Linked DNA regions of Homo sapiens: region 2 is linked to region 1. Evidence: fine-mapped expression QTL. A gene starts in region 1. The other region holds a variant in brackets. All regions are shown on one strand. Distances are from middle to middle. Region 1 holds the start of KCNQ3 (potassium voltage-gated channel subfamily Q member 3). Region 2 overlaps KCNQ3 (potassium voltage-gated channel subfamily Q member 3).

What was found.
Region 2: its variant is fine-mapped to the expression of KCNQ3 in cerebellum (GTEx, PIP above 0.99).

What each region holds. Positions count from the first base shown.
Region 1 is chr8:132,474,423-132,486,805 of GRCh38, reverse strand. KCNQ3 (potassium voltage-gated channel subfamily Q member 3) reads left to right here and starts at 5,711. Exons shown (of 15, transcript NM_004519.4): 1 at 5,711-6,659. The coding sequence starts at 6,274.
Region 2 is chr8:132,437,215-132,449,597 of GRCh38, reverse strand. The region is part of intron 1 of KCNQ3 (potassium voltage-gated channel subfamily Q member 3); the gene reads left to right. Among named protein-coding and RNA genes, the nearest start is that of KCNQ3, 38 kb to the left of the region's middle. The variant AGAAG/G (reference allele first, on the strand shown) is at 6,217.

The DNA of each region.
Region 1 (12,383 bases):
GATGCTCAGCCTAGCAGGGAGACCACAGTCAGGATGGCAAGAGCCTGCGACATTGTGGGGAGGTTGTTTCTGCCTCTAAGATGCAAAGTGACCCATGACCCAGCCCTGTCTTTTTAGGTAGCAATTCTTGGCAATATTCTTTTCTAAATACCTCTTGCAGCCAGCCCCTCCTCTCCAAGATCTGCCTCAACACCTCTCAGCTGGGCTCTGCCTTGTACTTGCTCTGATTGAATTGATTTTTCTCACTTCCAACCTCTCCTCCACAGAGTTGTCAGAAAGCCCTTTGTGGAACCACCTGGGATTAGGTCAGTTTACGCTTAAAGTAACTCATGACCCCCAAGTCCATAAGCCTGGTATATATATGAAAGCCTTCCCCATGTGGCCTCTGCTCCATCCACGCTTGCCTCCAACCATCACAACCACTTTCCCTGGAAACTCCACTCTCTGTCTTGCCTCCAAGCCTTTGCCTACACTGAACCTGCCACCTGGAATAGCGTTCTCAGGAAATAATACATTGTAGTGGTTAAATGTATAGGTTCCAAAGTTAGATCACCTGAGCTTGAATCCTGGGGCTGTCATTTCTTAATCATGTAAACTTGGGTGCAGTATTTAACCTAAGTATAATTTTCATCATGGTTGATATGAAAAGCAATAGCCATAATGCCTATTTCATAACTTTGTTGTGAGGATTAAATGAGATAATCTATATATAGCAGTCAGCCCAGTGCCAAGTGTAGAGGAAGCACACGATAAATGTTATTATGATAATAAGCATCCATCACGAGCCAGGTCATTGACAGCAATGACCGTAGAAAGATGAGTAAATTGTTTTGCATTTTATTAGCTCATCTTTGGAACTAAATATAGAATTAATTTTTTTTCTTCTGTTTTTCATTGATGGAGAGCAACACATAAAACAGGCAATTGGTGAATGCTCACTGGAAGGATGAATGAATGAATTCGTTAAGTAGATAAATTGGATATTTTACCCAACATAATTATTTAAAAGAAAAAGACAAAAGTGACATTAAGAAACATGCAAAATTAATTTGAAGGTTAATGTAAAAATTGCAAATGTGAGGCAGGAAAAGAAACACTTTTCCAACTGAGAACAATCTAAGTTAAGCCCCTTAATCATTCCCATCTGGAGAGAAGGTGAGCGCCGTTTGGCTTGGAGCTCATTCATTCCCCATCATGCCTGACTTGAGTGCCTTCCACGATGCTGTGTCAGATGCCTTTCAGTAATGTAGTCAATGTGCACAGTACATCACAGGCTGCAAAGCCCTACCTTAACGTGGATCCTGGGAGGAATGATACTCAGACCAAGTCTAAGGCAGGGAGGATAAGAAACATTGTCCCATTGAACAGCTGAGGAAGCAGGCTAGAAATAAGTCTGGCAACTTTTTTCAGGTCACTAAGTGCAAAGTCACAGAGCCAGGACGATCTAAATGCTGAACTCTATTCTGCCCTCCTCTGCTGAGTGACATGTACAAGGGTGTTCCTTAGCTTCTTCTCGTTCCTTCCCAGGAAGGCTTCTCACCTGTAAGGGAACAAGAGTTCCTCTGTCCTAGTGTACAGTGATATGAAGTCTAGGAAAGGGAAAGACAAAAAGAAGACCTGGAGGAAGAGAAGAGGGGGCAGTAAATTTGAGGATTTGCTGAGATTGGGTTTTCAAGAATAAAAAACGCATATAGGGTAGTAATGGGATCCATTGTTCCCAAACATATTTCCTTTTGGCCCGGGTTGTTCCTAGACCCAGAATTAGAGCTTGTCGTGTCTCCTCCAAACAAGCAAAGAGTGCTCTTTTTGGCTACAAAGATCTGTCTCACTGGCTCCTCTGAGAGGTAGATTTATACCCAGGTCCAGAGTAAGCATTTAGGGGACAAATGATTTCATCAGAAGTAGTTTCATGTGGAATTCTTTGACGGTGAATGAGGCATTCCTAAATGCATGGATGGTGTTGTTGGCAGAATCATTGAGGACTGGAGAGGCAATTCTGTACCCAGGATACGTGTCTATTCCAGTAATGGCATATGTCCGCCCCCGCCCATGTTTGGAAGGTCCAGTGTAATCAACTTGCCACCAAGTGGCTGACTGGTCCCCTAGGGAAGGTGCCCCACTGGGGGCTGAGCATCTCCATTGCTTGCAGGTCAGGCATGCTTCAGTCCTGTTGGCAGTAGTCATGATCAGAATATTCACAGAGGGTGTTTCTGGGTAACAAGATGATTACTGTTGCCTTCTGGCTGATTTACATTTCATAATTTCCTAACAACTACTTTGCATTTCTTGTGTAACAAATAATAAAAGTAAATTTAAAATTGGCCTAAAGCAATTATTTAATGTGTTTAGGGAACAGAGTGAGAGGGGCAGGCAGGACCACCATTTGCATATGCCTGTGAACCTGAGACTGTCCTACTCATTCAATGACAGTCATAATAACCATCACTGGAATATCACCTCATCATGAGATGCTTACAACCCTGGATTTACAGAGGCAGAAATGTAGGCTCAGAGAAAGCCCTTTGTCTCTCTCTTTTTACTCATTCCCAGGAAGTGCCTCACCTGCAAGGGAGAGAGAGTTTACCTGAACATCTCGCCTATACATTGAGATGAAGACCAGCTAAAGAGAAAAGCAAAAATGAAAGCTAAGGCATGGAGGAGGGGAAGCAGGTGGGTGGGTTTTCAATGTTACACTTTGAGCTGGGGCTCAAAGCCAGGAGAGGAATGCCTCATTGTTGTCCTTGTTGATAGTGTGTCGCTAACTCTTTGCTTTGGTGCCATGTTCAGCTGGAACCTGAGGCTCTTAGGGACTTTAGGCCTCTGAGAAGTTTCCTTCCAGTGGGATATAGGATGTTTGATTTTCTTTAGCTGAAACCTGTGCTGTGGAGCGCTGTGATTACACAGTTCCTCCAATGACACTCAGTGCACACCCTGCTTTTGATGACATTTCCAAAGCCCCTATTAGAAGCCTAAACACTGCTTGCCATTGGATTATAAAACCATCAAAGCAACTCCATTTACTAGACTCAACTACCTGGCAGTTTCCCTATCATTGGGTTTAATTGGCTCAGTTATGAATTTGTTATTGACTTAACCTCATCTTTTATGGGAGGCATGCAAATAGCCCCTGCACCTTATCTTAAATTGTAATACTTGACAGTCTGAAGCTCCCATCAAAATAGAAGTCTTTTCATGTATCTGAGGATCCAAACTGTCATTCTGGGAATCTGAACTTTTGATTAATTGCACAATAATAAATTCTCACATCTTCTTTCCACATTCCTTGACTCGTCTTCTTTTTATGTTTATCTAGTGAGCCTTTTTATTTTAAATACTGTCAAAATGTTTTTATCATGTTTCTTAAGTTGCAAGGAGCATAAAGGAGCAGCAAGACTTCCTAAGTATGAAGACTTTCACAATGGTAAAACGAAACCAAACAAAAATCTCACCCACAAACATACATGGAATGCTTGTGTGCCAGGCATTGTGCTGAGAGCTTTACACTCTTCATTCGCTTATTCATCATTTATTCATGCTGCCAACACAGATTGAGAGCCTGTGATATGACAGACACACTTCCAGGATTCAAAACTAGGATGCTTAGTCCCTGCTCTTGTTTAGTAAGATAACAGTAAACAAGTAAACAGAATGTAAATGCGATCATTTTTGGCAGTGATAAATGTAATGAATGAACAAAACAGGAAGAGACTGAGGGAGAACAGCGACTTTGGAAAAGGTGCTCAGAGATAAAGGGCAAGATTGTTTCCTGGTTAGTTGGGATGGGAGTAGGACAGGAAGAATACACGTGAGTTTGGTGTGTTGGGCATGGCAGGGCTAACACATGGGCAGGAGGAGGCTTTGCAGTGCCCAGCTCCCATTTGGAGATATTCTGATCCAAGCAATTCCCTTTCCTTGGGCTTTTTCTCCTTTCCAGAGCCTGCTGGACTGGTTACTTACTCCAACTCACTGCTGAGCATTTATCTATTCACGGATGTACAGGGGTCCTACTGGGCACTGCCACGTTTCCATATGCTATTTCCTATAATTCCTCACAAAACCCATCAACCAGTGAACAGCCTTTTCCCCTGGGGTTCTTGTCATGAACTCTTCCCGTTTAATATTAAGTTCCCATGCTAGAGTCTGTTTCTGGACAAAGAATTCTGTTGCACTGAGAGTTTATTTTTGTACCGATCCCACACTGTTTTAATGATTTCAGTCTTACAGTTTAACTTCCTCTGGAAACTCCTCCCTTCTTGATTTGGAGACCTCTTTTGAGGTTCTCCCCTTTGATAGTCATTCTATAGGGTGGTGGTTCTCTGACCCTTCCCCTGCCCCAGCCCATACATTCCTACTCCCTTCCCTTCCTTCTTCCCTTCCCTGTCTCCTATGCTCTCCTTGGCCAACTTCTCCAGGCAAATCCAGAGCTGGTGTTCTTGCAGGTCTGATTCCTCTTTTCTTATACACTAGGGATAGATCCTCGGCCTTGTTCACAGGGTCTCCCCTCACCCCATGTCTCTCACCCCAGCTGACAGACATGAGGTGAGAGAGTGGGAAGGAAAGGAGGCCACAGATGCCATGGGGCAGCAGGAATGGAGGCTTCCCCGATGGCGGTGGGCATGGAAGAAGTGCAGGATGCTCCTGTCCTTTGTCAGTGTCTTACAAGATCTAGCCTTTGCCTGTGGCCTACTCTCATTAAGCTCAAGCCACCCTTCCCCTCCGCACCCGCTGTTCTGCTGTTTGGAGGGCTCTCTGGACATTTACATAGTTGCTCCCAGCTTGTCATTAGGGTCTCACCTCGAAGCATCACCTCCACAATAAGGCCTTCCACGACCAGCCGGTTTAGAGTGACTCCCCCAGTCACTATAGCGCAGCACTCTAATTTGTTACCACATACTATTTACCAATATCGGAAATTCTACTGTTAAAATTTGTCTTTTCATTGTCTTCCACCGGCTAGGACGGAGGTCTTAGGAGTGCAGAGACCTCATATCTTCAGGACAGAGATCACTACCCTTTGCCAGGGAAGCTCACGAGGGGTTACAGATTGGTTGATTGAATTGAAATTTGGACCAGAGAGGGAATGACTGGCTTGGGTGCAAGTCGGGAGCAAAGCAGGAATCAAAGATTCTGACTGCATTTCTTCAGTCCTTTGCCCACCCAGACAGGTGAAGGTGCTATTCAAAGATTGGGGGAGGAGAGGGCCGCGGCATCCACCATGAACCACGAACTAGAGGGAAGAGGGAAGAGGGAAGAGGGAAGAGGGAGTCACGAGCTTCGCTACCACAGAGCAGGTGCGTTCGCGGTGCGCCCGGCCTTGACCAACCCGACAACTTGGCTTTTACCTCTGAAGCCGAGGAGCAGGGGTAGGGGGTGAGGGAAATTCACAAAGCTGCAACCACAGAGCCAATGTTTGGTGGGCGACAACCCCCCAGTCCCTCCTCCCTTCCTCTTCTTCCCCCAACTGCCCGCCGTCACGCCCCATCCAGGGGAAGCCCCAACGCCCACGGGAGCTCCAGGAGCCGGGCTCTGCAGCCGCCTGGCGCACTGCCTGGTTGCAACGGGGGCGGCGGTAGCCCAGGCGATCCTGGGTCCCCAGACAATCAGCGGTGGGGGTCGGCGGGAAGAGGCGGGGCGCCGCCGCCCGGGCCTCCCGCCGCGACGGGGCGGGACAATGGGGCCCCACCCCGGGGAAGGAGGGAGGGAGGGACGCGGCGTGCTCTCGGCCCGCGGCGCGCTCGCTGCTGCTGCTGCTGACAGGCTGAGGCTGGAACGGGCGGGGAGGGGCGCGGGTGGGAGCGCGGAGGAGGGAGGAGGCGGCGGCGGCGGCGCGTGTGGCTGGCGGGCGGGAGGGCGGCTGGCACCGGGCTTGTAAATAAACTGCGATGCTGTCTTGGGCTCGCCGGCCTGGGTGCCGCCGCCGCCGCCGCCGCCCCGGAGCGCCGGTTCCAGGCTCCCGCCGCCGCGCGCCCTAGCGCCTCCGCGCCAGCCTCGCGCGCCCTCCCAGCTTCTCCGCAGCCCCCGGCCCGCGACCCTCGGGGTCCTGCGGCTGACCCGCGCGGGATGTGACCCCCTGACCCCCTGCCTGGCCTCCCCTGCCCCCCAGGGGGCCCGCCTTTGCCTGCTTTTGGGGGGGGGTGGGGAGGGGCGCGCGGATCATGGCATTGGAGTTCCCGGGCTTGCAGCCGCCGCCGCCGCCTCGTTCACGCACCCCGAGCGCCCCTTCTTCCCAGAGCAGCAGCGGAGAAGGCGAAGCGGCCGGCGGGGGCGAGGCAGATGGGGCTCAAGGCGCGCAGGGCGGCGGGGGCGGCTGGCGGCGGCGGCGACGGGGGCGGCGGAGGCGGCGGGGCGGCTAACCCAGCCGGAGGGGACGCGGCGGCGGCCGGCGACGAGGAGCGGAAAGTGGGGCTGGCGCCCGGCGACGTGGAGCAAGTCACCTTGGCGCTCGGGGCCGGAGCCGACAAAGACGGGACCCTGCTGCTGGAGGGCGGCGGCCGCGACGAGGGGCAGCGGAGGACCCCGCAGGGCATCGGGCTCCTGGCCAAGACCCCGCTGAGCCGCCCAGTCAAGAGAAACAACGCCAAGTACCGGCGCATCCAAACTTTGATCTACGACGCCCTGGAGAGACCGCGGGGCTGGGCGCTGCTTTACCACGCGTTGGTGTGAGTACCCGGCCGCTCGGGGCGCCCTCGGCGGCGGCGCGCTTGGGGACTTGGGGTCGGGGCTGGAGCTGAGAAGTCTCTGGGGCTTTAAGACCCATGGATGCTTTCCCGCTGAAGGGGAGACCAGCCCGTCCTCAGCACGCGTTTCCCTGGGTGTGTGTGTGTGTGTGTGTGTGTGTGTGTGTGTGTGTGTGTGTTGCCGCTCTCCGGGTGTTCCACACTAGGGGCTTAAAAAACGAAGCGTGGTTCCCCTGCTGATTTGGGCGGATGTGTGCGCGCGCGGGTGCACATTTATGACATCTTCTAGGGGTGTTGGTTTGGAAGCTTAAAATAATTATGTGGGTTTTTCCAATTAATGTGAGGGTTGAAGAGGATAAAGCGGGTCCTCCCGTGAGCTCTGTGTTTCTGTTTCGGGTGGATCCCTTCTGTTGGGATCGCCACTGAGTTTAGTTGGGGATGGGAGGGGTGCGCACCACCCATAGTGGGGAGCGTGTGTGTGTGTGTGTGTGTGTGTGTGTCGCTTGCTTGTGCCACCCTTCTGATCGCTGGGTACTGGTACAGAGAAGAACCTGGTGCTGCTCTGACTGGGAGCTGGGACTGGCCAAAATGCATGTTCTAGGATTCCTTTTAGGGAAGTGAATGGGAACGTGTGTGTCTAAGCCTAGACTGAGGGGCTGGGGCTTCACAGAGCCAGGAGGTGAGGGGGCCGGGGACTCTTTTGGCTGAAACATCTCCTTGATTTGGGATCCGATATTCCCTCAGCCTCAGTCGCTGCTGCTTCTCCTGCTTTGGCTGGCCTAGGGCACCGGGAATGTGAGGGGCTTGGCCTGGAGGTTTGCACCCAGGCACTGTTCTCCTAGAAAGAATCTCCTTGCTAGTCCGATGTAAATGCATGGCCAGAAGGAAGAAGGAACTCCCTCTGCACCTGCCACTGGGGATGGAAAATCCACCCGTATTTGGGAGGGGGGAGAGGATGGTGGGGGTGCTCCTCATTCAAGATTGGAAATCTGTGCTGTCAGCACCCATCTCGGAGCTGGCAGGGCACGTCCAGCCATCAAGCTCTGCCTTCTGGCTCTGGTTTAGTCATCCTGATGGCTGCTTCTAGGAAGCTGTACTGTACCAGGGTTTTGGCAGGGAATTGCCTATGACCTTGGCAACCCCCCCTCCCCCCTCTCTCCCCCACGCGTTTAGCAGTGGATTTTCCTCTCTATTCTCCTCCAATTCACCCATGACTGATGTGGTCGGAAGGGCTCAGGAGCCTTGGAGTTAGTTACACTACCTGCCAGTTTTTCTTGGTTAGAGACGTTTTTCTAGGTTCGGCCACCAGGTGGGGGCGTCCACACAGGACCTCAGACTTAGCAACAGGTTTCTTCAAGGAGGTTACCAAGCCCGGAGAGGGTGCCTTCCCGGAAACTAAGGAACCAGCAGGAAGGGTGGGGTGGGAGTGGGGCATTTTCCCAGAAACGTGGATGTTGGTGTCTGTATGAGTGTGCGTGTGTATGTGTGTGTGTGTGTGTCTATTTGCAGGTGTTGGTCGGGGTCTGGTTGGAGAGACGGCTTAACAATTGTTGCTCTTTCATTTGCTCTTTTTAGGTGGCCGAAAAAAAAGCATTAAAATACATTCCTCTCTCTGTCTCTAGCAATATGTTTAGTTAAATTGAAGTGAATACTGAAATATGTGATAGTTAAAAAAGGCACAAGAAGTTCGTTGAGTGCACACAGTCATACAATGATTCACGTGTCCTTTCACATGCACATCGCGTTCAGTACGTACTGACTGAAAAACCTGGGGGTCCTATGGAAGCATGTGGGCTCCCTCTTTCTTCTCTTCCCACCTTTCCCAGCCAGCACCTCCAGCCCTGCCTTGTCCAGTCTGGGGAAGGGAATAGCTAAAGCTGTTACTGACTGAGCCTCAATTTTATTTTTTTCTAGAATTATTGCATCACCTGGAAGCAGATTTGATAATGCCAAAACCTGGAGCCTGTTTCCCAAAAAGGATCCAGGAAAATTTAAGACTTTGTGAGAAGAAAGTCAGTTACCTAGCTAGGAACTATATATGCAAATGCATATATATGCAAATATGCAAATGTACTAATTTTATTTAATCCTCACACAGTACTATTAGATGGAAATTATTATCTCCGTTATATAAAGATATGAAAACCTCAAGAGAGAAAATCACTTGTCCGCGATCACACAGCTAAGGTTCCTGGAGCTCGCATTTGAATGCAGTGGGTTCACTCTGTTTCTGAGCCAAGATTCCAGTTCTGATGCTCTTCCAACAATTGTGGGACCCTGGGTATTTTGCTGAGCGTCACTGGGTGCCCCTTTCCCCATTGTTAATGCAGGGCCATGAGTAATTCCTTGGCCTCCCCTTGCTAGCTCTCAGATGGCAAATTGCTAGAAATGAGAGTTTAGAATCAAGTTGGGGGCTGGTCAGAACTCAGGAAGCCACAGTGTTAGGAAAATTGAGGATGAACTGGGGTGGTGGTGGGATTGCGGATTCTGATAAATTGGGAGCTACACAGGAAAACCTGTGTTGAATTCCCATTGAGCTCCTAATATTGAAGCATACTTACTTAGTACATGCATAGTACATTCTCCCTGCAGCTTAGGAGACAGTCCAGTCAAGTGAACATAATTGAACCTTTCCTTGATGATTCAGGATTTTGCATTGAAATTTATGTTTTCAAGCATCCATTATCTTGTTCTGGGCTGTGGCTAATGGCACAATGGGCCCAGGAAATTGGGCTTACCATAGGCCTACAATCTAGTGGATGCTTTTTTTTTTTTTTTAAATTAAAATGAACCAGGTCCATGATGAGATTATTTTTTTTCTCCTTCCTAAAGGTAGAATACAGGAAATATGGAAATCAATCAAACCCTTACCTTGTTTCTTTTGCCTCAAATGCTGTATTAGTCTGTTTTCACAGTGCTATAAAGAAATACCTGAGACTGGGTAATATATAAAGGAAAGAAGTTTAATTGTTTCACAGTTCTGCGTGGCTGGCGGAGGTGGGAAGGGGTGGTCTCAGGAAACTTACAATCATGGAAGAAGGCAAAGGGGAAGAGGAAGCCAGGCACATCTTACATGGTGGCAGGAAAAAGAGAACAAAGGGGAAGAGCCACACACTTATCAAACAACCAGATCTCCTGAAACTTCTATCAGGAGAAGAGCAAGGGGAAAATATGCCCACATGATTCAGTCACCTCCCACCAGGCGACTCCCACAATATGTGGGTATTATAATTTGAGACGAGAGTTGGGTGGGGACACAGAGCGAAAACATATCATTCTGCCCCTGCTTCCTCCCAAATCTCATGTCCTTTTCATATTTCAAAACCAATCATGCCTTCCCAACAGCACCCTAAGGTCTTAACTCATTCCAGCATTAACTCAAAAGTCTAAGTCCAAAGTCTCATCTGAGACAAGCAAGTTGCTCCTGCCAATGAACCTGTAAAATAAAAAAAAAGTTTGTTACTTCCAAGATACAATGGGAGTATAGGCATTGGGTAAATGTTTCCATTGCAAACGGGAGAAATTGGCCAAAACAAATGGGCCACAGGCCCCATGCAAGTCTGTAACCCAGCAGGGCATGCATTAAAAAAGCTCCAAAATAATGTCCTTTGATTCCATGTCTCACATCCAGGCCACCCTAATGCAAGGCTTGGGCTTCCATGGCCTTGGGCAGCTCCACCCTTGTGACTCTACAGGGTTCAACTCCTGTGGCTGCTTCCATGGGCTGGCATTGAGTACCTGTGGCTTTTCCAGGCACACAGTGCAAGCTGTCTGTGGATCTACCATTCTGGGGTCTGGAGGACGGTGGCCCTCTTCTCACAGTCCAACTAGGCAGTGTCCCATTGGGGATTCTGTGTGGGGGTTCCAACCTCACATTTCCTCTTGCACTGCCCTCACAGAGGTTCTCTATGAGAGCTTCACTCCTGCAGCAGACTCCTGCCTGGACATCCAGGTGTTTCCATACCTCCTCTGAAATCTAGGTGGAGGTTCCCAAAGCCTAACTCTTGTCTTCTGTGCACCCACAGGCCCAACACCACACAGAAGCCACCAAGGCTCAGTGCTTGCACACTCTGAAGCAATGGGCTGAGCTGTACCTTGCTCCCTTTTAGCCATGGCTGGAACTGGAGCGGCTGGGACACAGGGCACCAAGTCCAGCAGCTTCACAGAGCAGTGGGGCCCTGGGCCTGGCCCAGGAAACCATTTTTCCCCCCTAGGCCTCTGGGCCTGTGATTGGAGGGGCTGCCACAAAATTCTCTGATGTGCCCTGGAGACATTTTCCCTGTTGTCTTGGCTATTAACATTCAACTCCTCATTACTTATGCATATTTCTGCAGCTGGCTTGAATTCCTCCGCAGAAAATGGGTTTTTCTTTTCTACCACATGGTCAGGCTACAAGTTTTCTAAATCCTTATGCTCTGCTTTCCTTACCAATATCAGTTCCAATTTCAGACCATCCCTTTGTGAACGCACATAACTGAATGTTTTCAGAATAAGCCAGGTTAACTCTTGAATGCTTTGCTGCTTAGAAATTTCTTCCACCAGATACCCTAAATCATCCTCTGAAGTTCAAAGTTCCACAGATCTTTAGGGCAGGTGCAAAATGCTACCAGTCTCTGACAGAGCATACCATAAGTGTCCTTTACCCCAGTTCCCAATAAGTTCCTCATCTCCATCTGAGACCACCTCAGCCTGGACTTCATTGTCCATATCACTGTCAGCATTTTGGTCAAAACCATTCAGTAAGTCACTGGGAAGTTCCAAACCTTCCCACAATTTCTGATCTTCTTCTGAGCCCTCTAGACTGTCCCAACCTCTGCCCATTACCCAGTTCCAAAGTCTCTTCCATACTTGCAAGTATCTTTATGGGAGTGCCCCAAACTCCAGGCACCAATTTCCTGTATTAGTCCATTTTCACACTGCTATAAAGAAATACCTGAGACTGGGTAATTTATAAAGGAAAGAGGTTTAGTTGACTCACAGTTCTGCATGGCTGGGGAAGTCTCAGGAAACCTACAATCGTGGCAGAAGGGGAAGCAGGAATGTCTTACGTGGTGCCAGGAGAGAGCGCAAGAGTGAAGGGGAAGAGTCACACACTTATCAAACAACTGGATCTTATGAGAATTCTATCACGACAAGAGCAAGGGGGAAATCCACCCCCATGATTCAGTCACCTACCACCAGGCCACTCTGGAAACATGTGGGGATTACAATTTGAGATGAGTTTTGGATGGGGACACAGAGACAAACCATATCAAATGCCCATCCCCTGCTTTCACTTGGTGACTCCCCTTCACCTTGGCCCAGCTTCCCCAGGCATAGAATTTTGTACCTCGCATTTGATTGATCTCTGCTTGTCTGCCCTGTTGAGCTGAGAGCTACTTGAGAGTGGGAGCTGCTTATTCTCCTGTAACCTTACCACTCCACAGCAGGCTGCAGAGTGCATGGTAGGTACTAAGTAAGCATTTGCTGAATGGATGCATGTGAGAATTCTGTAAGGGTTCTGGTTAATCAAGACTTTGCTGCAATAGCTTTACTACTATCCCAGTAACAGTAAGTAGTCAAAGCCAGCATTACAGGACTTTAATTATAAGAATAGTTCTTAGAAGTCCAAAAATGGACTATGGGAGAGAAAACAAGATTGGAGACCATGCTTTAACTTGAGTGAGGGTGATCACTTCTCTAGTTTTTTTAACCTTATGGCTGAAA
Region 2 (12,383 bases), 37 kb after region 1:
CTGAGGGCTCCAGAGGGAATACCATCAGAGATGTGTTTTCCTGTGGGGGTCTAGAGAGGTGGGAAAAGGGAGTGGCTGAGCTGGAGGACCTGAACTGGAAATCAGAACCATGAGAGGCAGAGTAGGAGCATCCTGCTGGGAGGTTGGAGGGCAGGCAGTTGGAGAGGCTGGTGTGGAGGGGGGATGGGAAATTGACCACTGTACTATGTTCACTGTAGACCACAGTGGTCTACAGTGAACACTGTAATCCGATCCTGTGGCCACTGGGTTTCACGGTCGGGAGTGGCATGATCAGATTTGTGTTTTGCAAGAGTGACTCTGCCATTGGCTGGAGAAGGGATGCGGAGGCAGGCATACACATGGTCTTTACAAGACACATTTCAAGATGACACCTAAAATTCACAATGAGGCCATTTACTAAGCTCCTGCCTTGTGCTAGGAGGTACACATGGGGCTCTAACCCACTGAATGGCTACAAACACTGTTAAACTGAATTTCATTATCCCCACATCGTAGCTGAAGAACATGCTCAGAGAGGTCCAATATTTTGCTCAGGGTCACACAGCCAGATGCAACCAGAATAGTCTACACCGAAGCCGGTGCTCTTCCTGCCGTACCGTGGCAACCTCACCAGTCTCTAACCCGTGTTGGCCTTTTTTCTCTCTCAGGAGCCTTCGGGGCCAGGGCTGACATTTGTGTTCAAGATGATTTCCTTCCTGCTCAAATAAATGCCAAACTAAATGATGGAAGTGATTCAGCAAGAAATAGAATTTGAGAGGGAAAAAAGAGCTGTGTGAAAACATTTACAAATGGATTAAAAATTTAAGTCCATCAACCCATGCCAACATACTTGGAAGTTTGGGAGATATTTTTAGACCATGAAATCCAAATGGCACAGATCGTGGGTTGGAAAGATAGAAACGCAAATAATAGTTTTCTAGCTGTGACCAGAGATTGCTTTTGCTTAGTTTTTCCTAGCTATAAAATAGCAACAATCAAAACGCAGAATTCACTGCAAGCACATCCTTCCTCCTCCTCCTTTTTACTTTTTCTTTTGTTTTCTTCTTCTTCCTCTTTTTTTTTTTTTTTTTTTTTCATATTTCTCCTTCTTCCCCCTTAGAGCTCAGCTTCTTGTTCTGGGAAAGCCCTGGAGAGACCTACGCCTACATGACGTTTGCTTTTGAACTCCCTTGACACTTTCAGAGGCTGGTAGCAGAAACCCATCTTAAACCAGCTGAGGCGTCCCAGGGATCTTGCTTGCTCATGGACCCCAAAGGAGATCAAGAAGGCCTGAGTGAGGGGTGTGGCTTTACAGTGAAGAAAAGTAATTGCCTTCCTAAGTTAGGGACCCACTGACTTAGCTGGGTTCAGGTGCCTACTGCAGAACCCTTATTCCCCACCTGTGTCTTTGGGTGAAAGGATCATAAGATGGCATGACAGCTGCTACAAAACAGGGGGCAGAATAGCTCCCAGGAAAAAGGAGGAGTGCTTGTCAAATTCTTTGACAATAGGAAGGAACGTTTATTGAGCATTTGCATTTTCCAGGCACATTTGTAGCTGCTTACCTGTGCTCTTTCAATCCTCACAACAGCCCCCACAAAGTAAGTGCAGCTAAAGGAAAATGAAAAGGGGATTTGGTTACGCTGTAGTGTGGTTGGGATGACAAATATGAGATGGTATTTATAAGTCGCTGGGGGTGATGCCCAGCAGGTAGTACTTACGCCGTGGTAACTTCTGTTTCCATCTCTTAAAAATGCTTTCAATTATTTTTATTTCTATCAGAGGAATACATACATATATTCAAGCCCAAAGTCATATAGGAAGGCAGGTTAAAAATGAAAAGCCACAGCCCCTTCCCCAGAGGCAGTCTCGTTCTTTCTGTCCTTAGAACTCCTGGTGGTTCTCCTGCATCTCTAAATCATGCGCTCGTGGCGCTGTCTCTTGATGAATCAACTTTAGGCACTTCTATTGATTTTCTGTTTTATCTTATCTCCCTTATGGTTTACGTCCTCTTTTCTTCTTCTCTCTCTCCCATAACCCAGCTCACCCGCTACTCTGCTCCTTCTTTTTCTTTAATCTCCATTACTTTTCTTTCTCCTGTTTTTTTTCAGTCTCTTTCCTCACACACAGCCAATCACTGTGTGGCCCACGCACAGGTACCCCTCCACCACCTCTTCCCCACCTTCTTCCTTTTCTTCTTTCTTGCAGTGTCTTCTCCACATCTGTGTCCTAGAAACCTTTACTGTCTGCCTGTGGTTTTCTCTGGTACCTTTATCTTGACCCTTGTCTGCCCATTCTGCCCTGCTTTAGGGTTATTTCTAGCTGTGTTACCACCACTTGTTAAAAATCTTGTTCTTGCATTCATTACCTTATGAAGCCTGCAGAACACGCCACGATGTAAGTCTTTGGATTCTCATTTTGGGGATATGAAAACAGAGCATCCTAAGATGGACTCAGAGTCCCAGGGGGAGAGGGAAAGAGCCACATGCATAGCTTATTTGGGGACCAAGTCTGATGTGACTCACCCTGGGTTCCCAGAAGGGGCTCAGGAAATGTTTGTTGTGGGATTGAACAGGAAGCTACCCTAATGGTAATGAGATGAATTGGACATTCCTCTCTGACTTCTATCGTTTGATTTTCTGAGGCCATTCACATACACACATACATGCTGTCTCACACACCACTCACGTGCTTCTGGCTTTAAATTCGTCTCCTCCTACATCTTTTTTATTGTTTTCTATTAAGCCTGATTTCTGTTTGGGAGGCAGCCTGCTTGTAACAAGCCTTTGGTAGTTTTGTCCTCCCGTCGCCTGGGATAATTTATGGGCTTGGAGAAAGGGAACTTGCCTCCTGTACTGTCAATATTAAATATACATTGCTTCCCTCACAAAATAGCATTCAGAGTTGTAATAAATCCTCTGGAAATTACCTGGAGTTAACTATGAGTTGGTTAAGTGCCAGTAATTAGCATTGCCTGGGAATTTTTGCTGACACATAGACTCATCCTGGTTGCCTTGCTTGGCTTTAATTGTATCCCGGAGCTCTAGAATTTTGGACCTGGAAGAGGTCTTCCCAGTCTAGCTCTGCTTTTCAGCTTAAAGGACGAAGAACCTGAACCCAGGGAAGGAGGGAGTTTGCTTAAGGACACACAGATTCCCAGCAGCCAAGGAGAGCAGAGTCCGGGTCTCCCAAGCTCATGTTTTCAGCCCCTTTGATCTGTTCATTTCCAGGCAGGGTGCTCTCAGGTCAAGCTAATGTGTGGCATGATGCAGTTTGCCAAGCTGTTTTGCACAGTCTTTCCAAAATTAGTTATTAATTGGGTGCTAATCTTGTTGGCCACCACGAAGGCATTGTCTTTAGAGTAGCTTAAGGTTGGTGGATCCAGGCTGAGGCATGTTGTGGAAGCCACTGCAGGGCCGTTAGCAATAAACATGTACCAGGAGGTCATCTGGTTCTTTTTCTGCTTGGAGAGGCAAACAGTAACCCAGCTTATCCCTTCTGGGCTCCCATCTGATAAAGACCTCAGCCTTTGAATAGACACAGATGATTAAATACAGTTCAGCTCTGCAAATGCCCATGGAGCACACTACTCTGTGCCCAGCATTGTGCAAGGTATCCCGGGCATATGGGCATGTAAGATGGACTTCTTGCTTGGAAAATTATAAAGTGTTTAATAGGCAGACAGATAGGGATGTAGAGAAACAGCTGAGTTCTAGCCTCAGAAACAGAGACTTGAGATGAAACCAAGGGTTTACTAACCGTATGACCTAGCCCAGTTCTGTAACCTTGGTGAGTCTTGATTTTCTCATCTGTGAAATGGGGTAGTTGTGAGACTTGAATAGGATTCTGTATGGGAAATGCCTGACACATAGTAAGAGCTCAGTAAATGATATTAATAATAATGATTTTTTGTGTGTTTTTTTGGGGTGGGTGGGTGGGGCTAATCACAGAAGAACTAAGGGTGCCCAAAGGAGGGAAAATTAATTTGATTTGGAGGATTGGGGAAGATGTCTTCATGGCTTTACTGCTTATTAGAGTCGTTTTTTTATTTCTTCTTAACTTGATCTTAGTGCCTCAGTTGAGTAATATCATTCATTCATTCACTTGATTTCCCTTAAAAATATTTATGTTGGGGATGGGGCAGGTGCATGGGGGAAATAAATGCAAGCTAATGTGTCCCTGCCCACAGTGAACGCAGAGTCTGGAGGAGAGAGGCGGGAAAGCCACGTGGCTGTGCTGCCCTGGGCCATGGAGACCTGCCTTGCCTTTCCTCCTCCTCACCTTTGCTCACAGCTGCCTCTCCTTCTCCTGATCTGGGGCCTGACCCTCTTCCTTTCTGAAAGGCCAGCTCTTTGCTTCCCCATGAAGTGACAGTGACAGGAATGTGACAATGTAATGCCACAATTAAGAGCATTTGGGACTTGGCTCCAAATGTCAGTCCACCCCTTTTCATGACACCAGTTGGTCCTTTTGCCTTTCTGAGCCTTAGGTTTTTGTGTCTATAAAACAGGCATAGAATTGTGAGAATTACAAGGTGATATTGATCGGGTGCAGAGCATGTTACCTGGAAACACCCTGAAGGCTTTAGCCCATATTACTACCCTGAAATCCAAGTCTCCTTATACTTTCTCACCAACTAATTTTGTTCTAAGAATAAAGCTCAATGTTTCTAGGTTCCTTTGTAATTTACAAAGCACTCTGCTTTGTCGAATCCTCATAATCAGGTGAAGTGAGCAGGAATTATTATTCTCTTTATTTTATATAAAAGGAACAGGCTTGGAGATGCTGATTGATGTGACAGAGTCCCATGCCTGATTCAGTCAAAGTCCAATGCCACCAAATCCCACGCTCTCTGCAATCTGCCATCCTGCAGCTCAGTTGGCGGAGCAGCACTGACCTGTGGTCAGCTGTGTCACACTGTGCATCTGTCTCATACCACATTCCCCGTAGCATTCTGTAGAGCTATGCTTATTTTAACATGCTCAGTTTGCACAACTCTATGAAGTAGGCTTGATTATTTATTCCTTTATTTTTACAAGAAGGAAGTGGAGGCACAGAAAAGTTACATGATTTTCCTAAGTTCAGTCCCAGCTGCTGGGCTGCAAAGCACCAGCTCCTGTCCTCCACACCATGCTGTCTTTTTATTATGAGTTTGTGCCTCATTATTTGGAATAAAATCCTTGATTCAACGATATTCAGTGTAGACCCTTCACACGGGGCAGGACAGATGACCCCAGTTGTAGCACGAAGGCACAGAATCAGAACTCAAAGTGCAGAAACAGAGCTTAATGCCAGGAACCAGTTGGTGGCTGGGTGAGGAGGGCAGGAGGGAGCACACAGGAGACAGGTGCAAAAGGATTAGAGGGGCATGAGCTAAATCACATGAGATAAATGGGCTCAGCAACCCACCCACGTCCTCTGAGCACTCACACCCCTTGGGAAATAGGGGTTGATGGAGTGGTAGCATCCTTTCTGTGTATTGCCAGAGGTGGACCCTGGAACCAGACTGCTGGGTTCAACTCCCAGCTCCATAACTTGCCAGTTGTGTCACTGTGGGCAAGTTTCTGAACCTCTCGGTACCTCTTGGGTTTCTGATAAGAAGAAAAGGGGGCAATGAACTGTGCTTGTCCAAGGGGCTTGGTAAGAGGATTAAATCACTTATTATTTATAAAGTGCTGAGAACAATGCTTGGCCCTTAGCTGTGTGAAAGTAGTTGTTGAGTAAATAAGACAAATGGGGGGGTAAAGAGTGTCAGAGGGCTGGGTGACCTGACCAGGGTCATAGTGGGTACTGGAACGGGACCTGAACTCAGGGCTCCTGGAACTCACCCCGTAGAAATCTACACTGTTTGCCTTATATTTCACTACTGGCTGCAAAATTAAGAAAATGAAACAAAATGCAACAAAAAACATCTACCCCAGTAGTTCTCAGTGGTTTGGAGATGAGATGAAGCTTTTCGAAATAAGCATCCAAATCAGCCTTGTGTATCTGTGCTGGGGAGGGGTGTGTTTGGAGGAGTGAGGTAGGAGTGTGGGTAGTGGGGGATGATGGATTTTTAACAAAGCCCTTTTCTCCATGTATCTTTTGAGAACTCTGGCTGTCACTTGTCTCTGACACGTGGACATCTCCATCCAGGCCCCTTTTTAAAACCTTTTGATTCTCATTAATGCTGGTTTTCAATTAAATTATTCTTAGCCCTAGAAACTACCCAATTAA[AGAAG/G]CAATTTTCTGTACTTTCCCTGGAAGTGATTGCTTACCTGGTTTGGTGGTGCCTTTAGCGGTGAACAAAGCCAGAGCGAATACTCCTGGGCCACCGGCTCTAATTGGTAGTGCTGGGGGTGGAAGGGATGGGGAGGGGTGTGATTCCCATAGGTGGGGGTGGATTTCTACAAAAGCTAACCTGACAAAGAAATTGGCTAGCCAAATGCCAGTCCTCCCCGACCCCCTCCCTACCTTTATTTCCAAAGGTTATGCTCAAGCGGGGCCTTAGCAATAGCTCCAATTTGTAATTCTAATTTCCTTGGAAATAGGGCTAAATAGAGCATTTGTCATTTCTCTCCATGTGGATTACCGGCCGCAGATGAGGATTTATGGCCTGAGCTGCTTCGGCCTCAGGAGCCTGTCTCTGGGGCTGAGATAGGGTGTCTGAGCACAGATTCGGGGAGAGGGTGTTGCATAGGGAGAAGGGGCTGGGTGTTGTCAGTTAAAAATATCTCAAACATTTTTTTCTCTAAATCTAGAAGAGAGAAAAAACCATGTATCCTGTTAAAGCTTCAGGTTGCCTGGTTATGAATAAAATAAGAAGCAGGAAAATGTTCAAAGGGAAATGCTTTGAGCACTGTGGGAGTGGTTTTTCTGCCCTGGATATTTCTTCTGGGAGAGAGAATGCCTTGACCTCATAGGTCAGTTGAAGACCAAGGCCCGGGTAGGAGCTCATGCGGCTCCCCGGGGTAGCTTGTATGGGGAACTAGGAGAAAATCTGGCCCACCTTGTTGGAAGCTAGAGTTTGAGAAGTTTGCCATTGGCATTTAGAGTCCATCTTTGCAGCCGTTGGTGCATTCTGAAAATACATTTTAGCCCTTACTCGTTGCCAGACTCTGTGCTAGGCACCAGGGAAACCAGTGGGGAACCCACACCAAATGGTTCTGCAGCTCCATGGAGTTTGTAGCCTGGTGGGGGAGACAGACATTGATCAAGGAATTACAAAAATAAATGTCAAATTACCCCCTTGCTAAGCTCTCCAGAGGAGAGGTGCCTAATGCATAAAGGGATTTATACTCCTGGGACAGCTCAGAGTGGGCTTCACAGATGCTGAAACTGAGATACATATGGAGGAAGAATCCGGTTTACTTTCTTTTTTTAAACTTTCATTTTAAGTTCAGGGGTACAAGCACAAGTTTGTTACATAGGTAAACTTGTGTCATGGGGGTTTGTTGTACAGATTATTTCATCAAGCAGGTATTAAGCCTAGTACCCATTAGTTATTTTTCCTGATTCTCTCCCTCCTCCCCACCTCCACCCTCTGAAAGACCGCAGTGTATGCTGTTCGCCTCTGTGTGTCCATGTATTCTCAATCATTTAGCTCTCACTTATAAGTGAGAACATGCAGTATTTGTTTTTCTGTTCCTGTGTTAGTTTGCTGAGGATAATGGCCTCCAGCTCCATCCATGTCCCTGAAAAGGACATGATCTCATTTTTTTTATGGCTCCATAGTATTCCGTGGTGTATATGTACCACATTTTCTTTATTCAGTCTATCATTGACGGATATTTAGGTTGATTCCAGAATGGCTGCTATTAAAACGTCAAAAAATGACATGCTGATGAGATTTCAGAGAAAAAGGAATGCTTATACACTGCTGGTGTGAGTTTAAGTTAGTTTAGCCATTGTGGAAGGCAGTATGGCAATTCCTCAAAGACCTAAAGACAGAAAGCCATTCAACCCAGCAATCCCATTACTGGGTATATACCCAAAGGAATATATATATATATATTTGTTTGTTTGTTTGTTTGTTTTGTTTTGTTTTTTGATTTTTGTTTTTTTGGAGCCAGAGTCTCGCTCTATCGCCCAGGCTGGAGTGCAGTGGTGCGATCTCGGCTCACGGCAAGCTCTGCCTTCCGGGTTCACGCCATTCTCCTGCCTCAGCCTCCCGGGTAGCTGGGACTACAGGTGCCTGCCACCGCGCCTGGCTAATTTTTTATTTTTATTTTTAATAGAGATGGGGTTTCACTGTGTTAGCCAGGATGGTCTTGATCTCCCGACCTTGTGATCCACCTGCCTTGGCCTCCCAAAGTGCTGGGATTACAGGCGTGAGCCACTGCACCTGGCCTACCCAAAGGAATATTAATCATTCTATTGTAAAGACACATGCACACATATGTTCATTGCAACACTATTCACAGTAGTAAAGACATGGCATCAACCTACTTTTGAGGTCTTCAAGTGTTGGGGGTGGGAAAGAGTGTACTGGGCCCCACCATTGCTGCCAGTCTTGACTGTGGCATGTGGGGCAGGTAAGTTACTTCTCCTCTTGGAGCCCCAGTTGTCTGGTCTGTAAAATAGAACTAATCAAATCCACTCCACAGTTTCTGTGATAAGAATAGAGAGTTAAGTGCAGGTCGGATATCTGGCAGGCCCTAAACCTTAACAGGTGAGAAGCAGAGTTCTGATTTCTTGATGGCAATGCCATACCCCTTTGAGCAGAAGGTCACTCATGGTCCCTGATAAATACAGTGTCACCTTTGAATAGGACTTGATAGGGCTGGGCTATGTATTTTGCAGGGTTTGGCCCACTTTAACATTCTGTGAGGGTGGCAGAGTGGCATCTGTCTGTGTTGCAGGAAGAAGCTGACTTCAAGGGGTTAGTAACCCCCCTCCTGTGTGTGCACAGTTGGTAAGGGGCAGAGGTGGAGTTCGAATCCAGATTGAGGCTGTCCAAAGTTAGTGTATTTTCTCCTCCTGCTTCCTTGTCTTCGTGGCGTGGGGAAAGGGTCACGTAACCCCTCCAAGCCTCAGTTTCCCACGACCGACATGGAGAACTACGCTGCACAATGGGGCGGTGACCAACACATTCATGTGTTCACTCTTCAGGGCACATTACACTGTGCGGGGCCAGGCTCTGGGCTTGGACACAGAGGGAAGGAAGGACTCAAGGCCACCCCTCAGGGCTGCGTTCTAGTGTGGGAAGACAAACACATGCCAGGAAATGAGGGGACGCCTGATACTGCAGGACCTGGTCAGCGCCATGAAGGACAGCAGGGAAAACGGTGGAAAGACTGTGCAAGTGCAGGGCAGCACTTCATCTGTGCTGCTGGCAGCTTCTCTCTGTTAAGATGACTTTGAGCAGAGACTGGAATGAGTAAAGGAGAGAGCCACAGAGATGACTGTTGGCATCCAAGAGTTCAAACCAATGGCAAATGGAAAACATTCAGAAAAATAAAAATGAACAATACAGCAATAAAACATGACACAAATTAAAAAGAAACAATTCAGTATAATGACTACTGACATAGCATTTGCATTGTATCAGGTATTACAGTAATCTAGAGATGATTTAAAGTATACGGAAGGATGTTTGCAGGTTCTATGCAAATAGTACACCACTTTGTATTAAGGATTGAGCATCTGGGATTGTGATATCCTCAGGAGGTCCCAGAACCAATCCTCTATGGACACTGAAGGATGACTGTAGTTTCCTACTTCTGTGTAACAAATTACCACAAATTTAGCAGCTTAAAGCAGTGTAAATTTGTTATTTTACATGTCTGAAGGTCAGAAGTCCAAAATAGGTCTCACTGGGGTAAAACAAGGTGTCAGCAGGGCTGTGTCCCTTCTGGACTCTGGAGAGAACCTGTTACCCTGCTTTTTCCAGCTTTTGAGGCTACCTGCATTCCTCAGCTCATGGCTCCTTCTACCATCATGAAAGCCAGCAGCACAATCTCTCTCTCACTCTGACTCCTCTCTGCCCCCTCCTCTGCTGGAAAGGAACCTTGTGGCTGTGTTGGGCCCACCTAGGTAATCTGGAATCATCTCTTTAGGGTCAGCTGATTACCATACTTTGTTCCTTCAGCAACCTTGACTCCCCTTTGCCATGTAACCTAGCATAGCACAGATTCTGGGGGTTAAAACATGAATATCTTTAATGGAGGCTTTAATGGAAGCACCTTCTTTCTCAGTGAGAAGTCCTGCTGGGGAGTCAGGGGGCTTGCCATGAAGCCGCGGTCCTGCTGCCTAACTGCTGGGAGACTGTGGCTCTTCATCTCTCTGAGCCTTCCATCTTTAAAATGGGCACTGAAACTTAGATTTATAATTGTGCAGTAGACTTCAAAAAGGTTTGCTGGGATGAATTGAATTTCCGGAGTCTGGTTTATCCTGATGAGTTTGCCGCTCAGTCCAGAAGTCATGTTACTCAGCAGGGGTAAATCTTGACTTTGCCAGAATGGGTTAGGGATGTGGGAAATCTAAACCCAGATGAAAAAATTGGTTCGGCATAAAGCTTGGTAGGAAGTATGGGGGTATTGGGAGCTGGCGTAAGTGGGATGGGTATTTGGGTCATCCAGGGTTATAGGATTTCTTCAGAAAATAAGGTACAAAGAGAAACTGCTTTTGGCCTCCGTCACACTGCGGCTGAAGACTGCCACTAGATAGCAGAATGTTCAGCCAGGCTGGAAATGGTTAAACAAAATGTTACATCTGGCTGGAATGGACCTTAAGGTCACTTCATAGAAGTCCACATGCAATGCTTGAATCTCTTCTTCAAGAGCCCTGAGAGTTGTAGCCTAGACTGTTCATGAACCTTCTTAGTGATAGGGAACAACACACGGCAGCTATCCTTAGAGAGTCTTACGCTGACCACATTTCCTTTCATTGACCTGAGCTCAGTCTCGCTGTCTCTTTCCACAGTATTAGTTTTTCTCCATGAGCGCCACAGAGAATGACCAGACCACCCAAGCCAGGGCTCTCCTAGCAGCTGACCACCATCCATCATCACTCTCAGAGATGTTACTGGTCCATCACCAAGCAGCCGCACCCACACGTTGCAGGGGTTCCCTTGGGTAAGGAGCCTGGCCAGGGCCTCTGGGTTCTGAGCACATCTCCTGTTGGTCATCACAGACCACAGAGAAATCAGGCAGAACTCTTCCTCAGGAAAATAATAGAGGGCCCAGTGGAGTCCCTAAGTTCCTCAGATAGAAGGAGGAATGGGCAGGGTGGGATCGGGGCAGAGACCTTAAATCCTGCCACTGTTTTCTACTGCATTTGGAAGCAGCCCAGGAGCTCCAAGGATTGAGACAGCTTGGTCCAAATGTCAGAAGGAGACTTCAGTGTATCTGAGGACCTGAAAGAGGCAGGAATTCTAGTCTTATATAATACAGACTTGAATAGAAAGCAAATTTTCCTGAATGTATTTCTCATAAGAAGAATCACCTTATAATAGAAAGCAGTTTTTCCTAAATGTATTTCTCATAAGAAGAATCACCTAATAATTGAGTCCTTACAAAATTTTTATTATGTGGCACCATCTCAGTTGTTTTATTTTGTGACAACAGGTTACAACAGGTTCTTTGAGGAAGGGGCACATTTGCCTGTGATATAAACATAGTAGTGCTAGTTTTAGACACTTGTAGCAGTCACTCAATGGAATTGGCTTCATGCACACACACAAAGCTGCTTAATGGATTAAATCATTTTTCCTGGGGCAATGTTCTTACAAATGCAAGTTAAACTGCTGTGAACAATTATTTTAAAGATCTATGAAAGAAAAACCTCAGTAGAGTTAGTGGTTATAGTGTAAGGATCCTCAAAGATGGATGGGTATTTGGGGCCTGGGACAGAGTTTTCAGTGACAGCATCACGGATGGCTTCAAAAGATGTATCTCTCCCAAGCAACCTAGATGTATGAAAATACGGTGCATGAGAATACAGGATGCTCTGGAAAACTGAGTTGAGGAATTAGAGTGTATAGAGGCATCAGAAACAGTGATATCAAAGAATAAATGGTTTCACCAAACGAGTATGGCAAATTAGAAATATTTCTAAATGAACACATATGCAGAGTATTAAATTTCTATGTGTAAACTAAATTAATACATTAAATGTTAGAAATAGACACTTAGCTTTTCAAAGAACAGGCACATTCAGTATTCCATGTTCACCTGCAAGGGAGGCAGGAGAGGAACCACTGTCCCCATCTCATATTTTTGGAAACTGAGGCACAGAGACCAGCCATGAGTGGATGCCAGAACTAAAACCTTAGGCCTGTCCCCTACACCACCCCACTCTTTTTTTTTATTTTTTTTATTTTTTATTTTTATTTTTTTTTTGAGACGGAGTCTCGCTGTCGCCCAGGCTGGAGTGCAGTGGCGCAATCTCGGCTCACTGCAGGC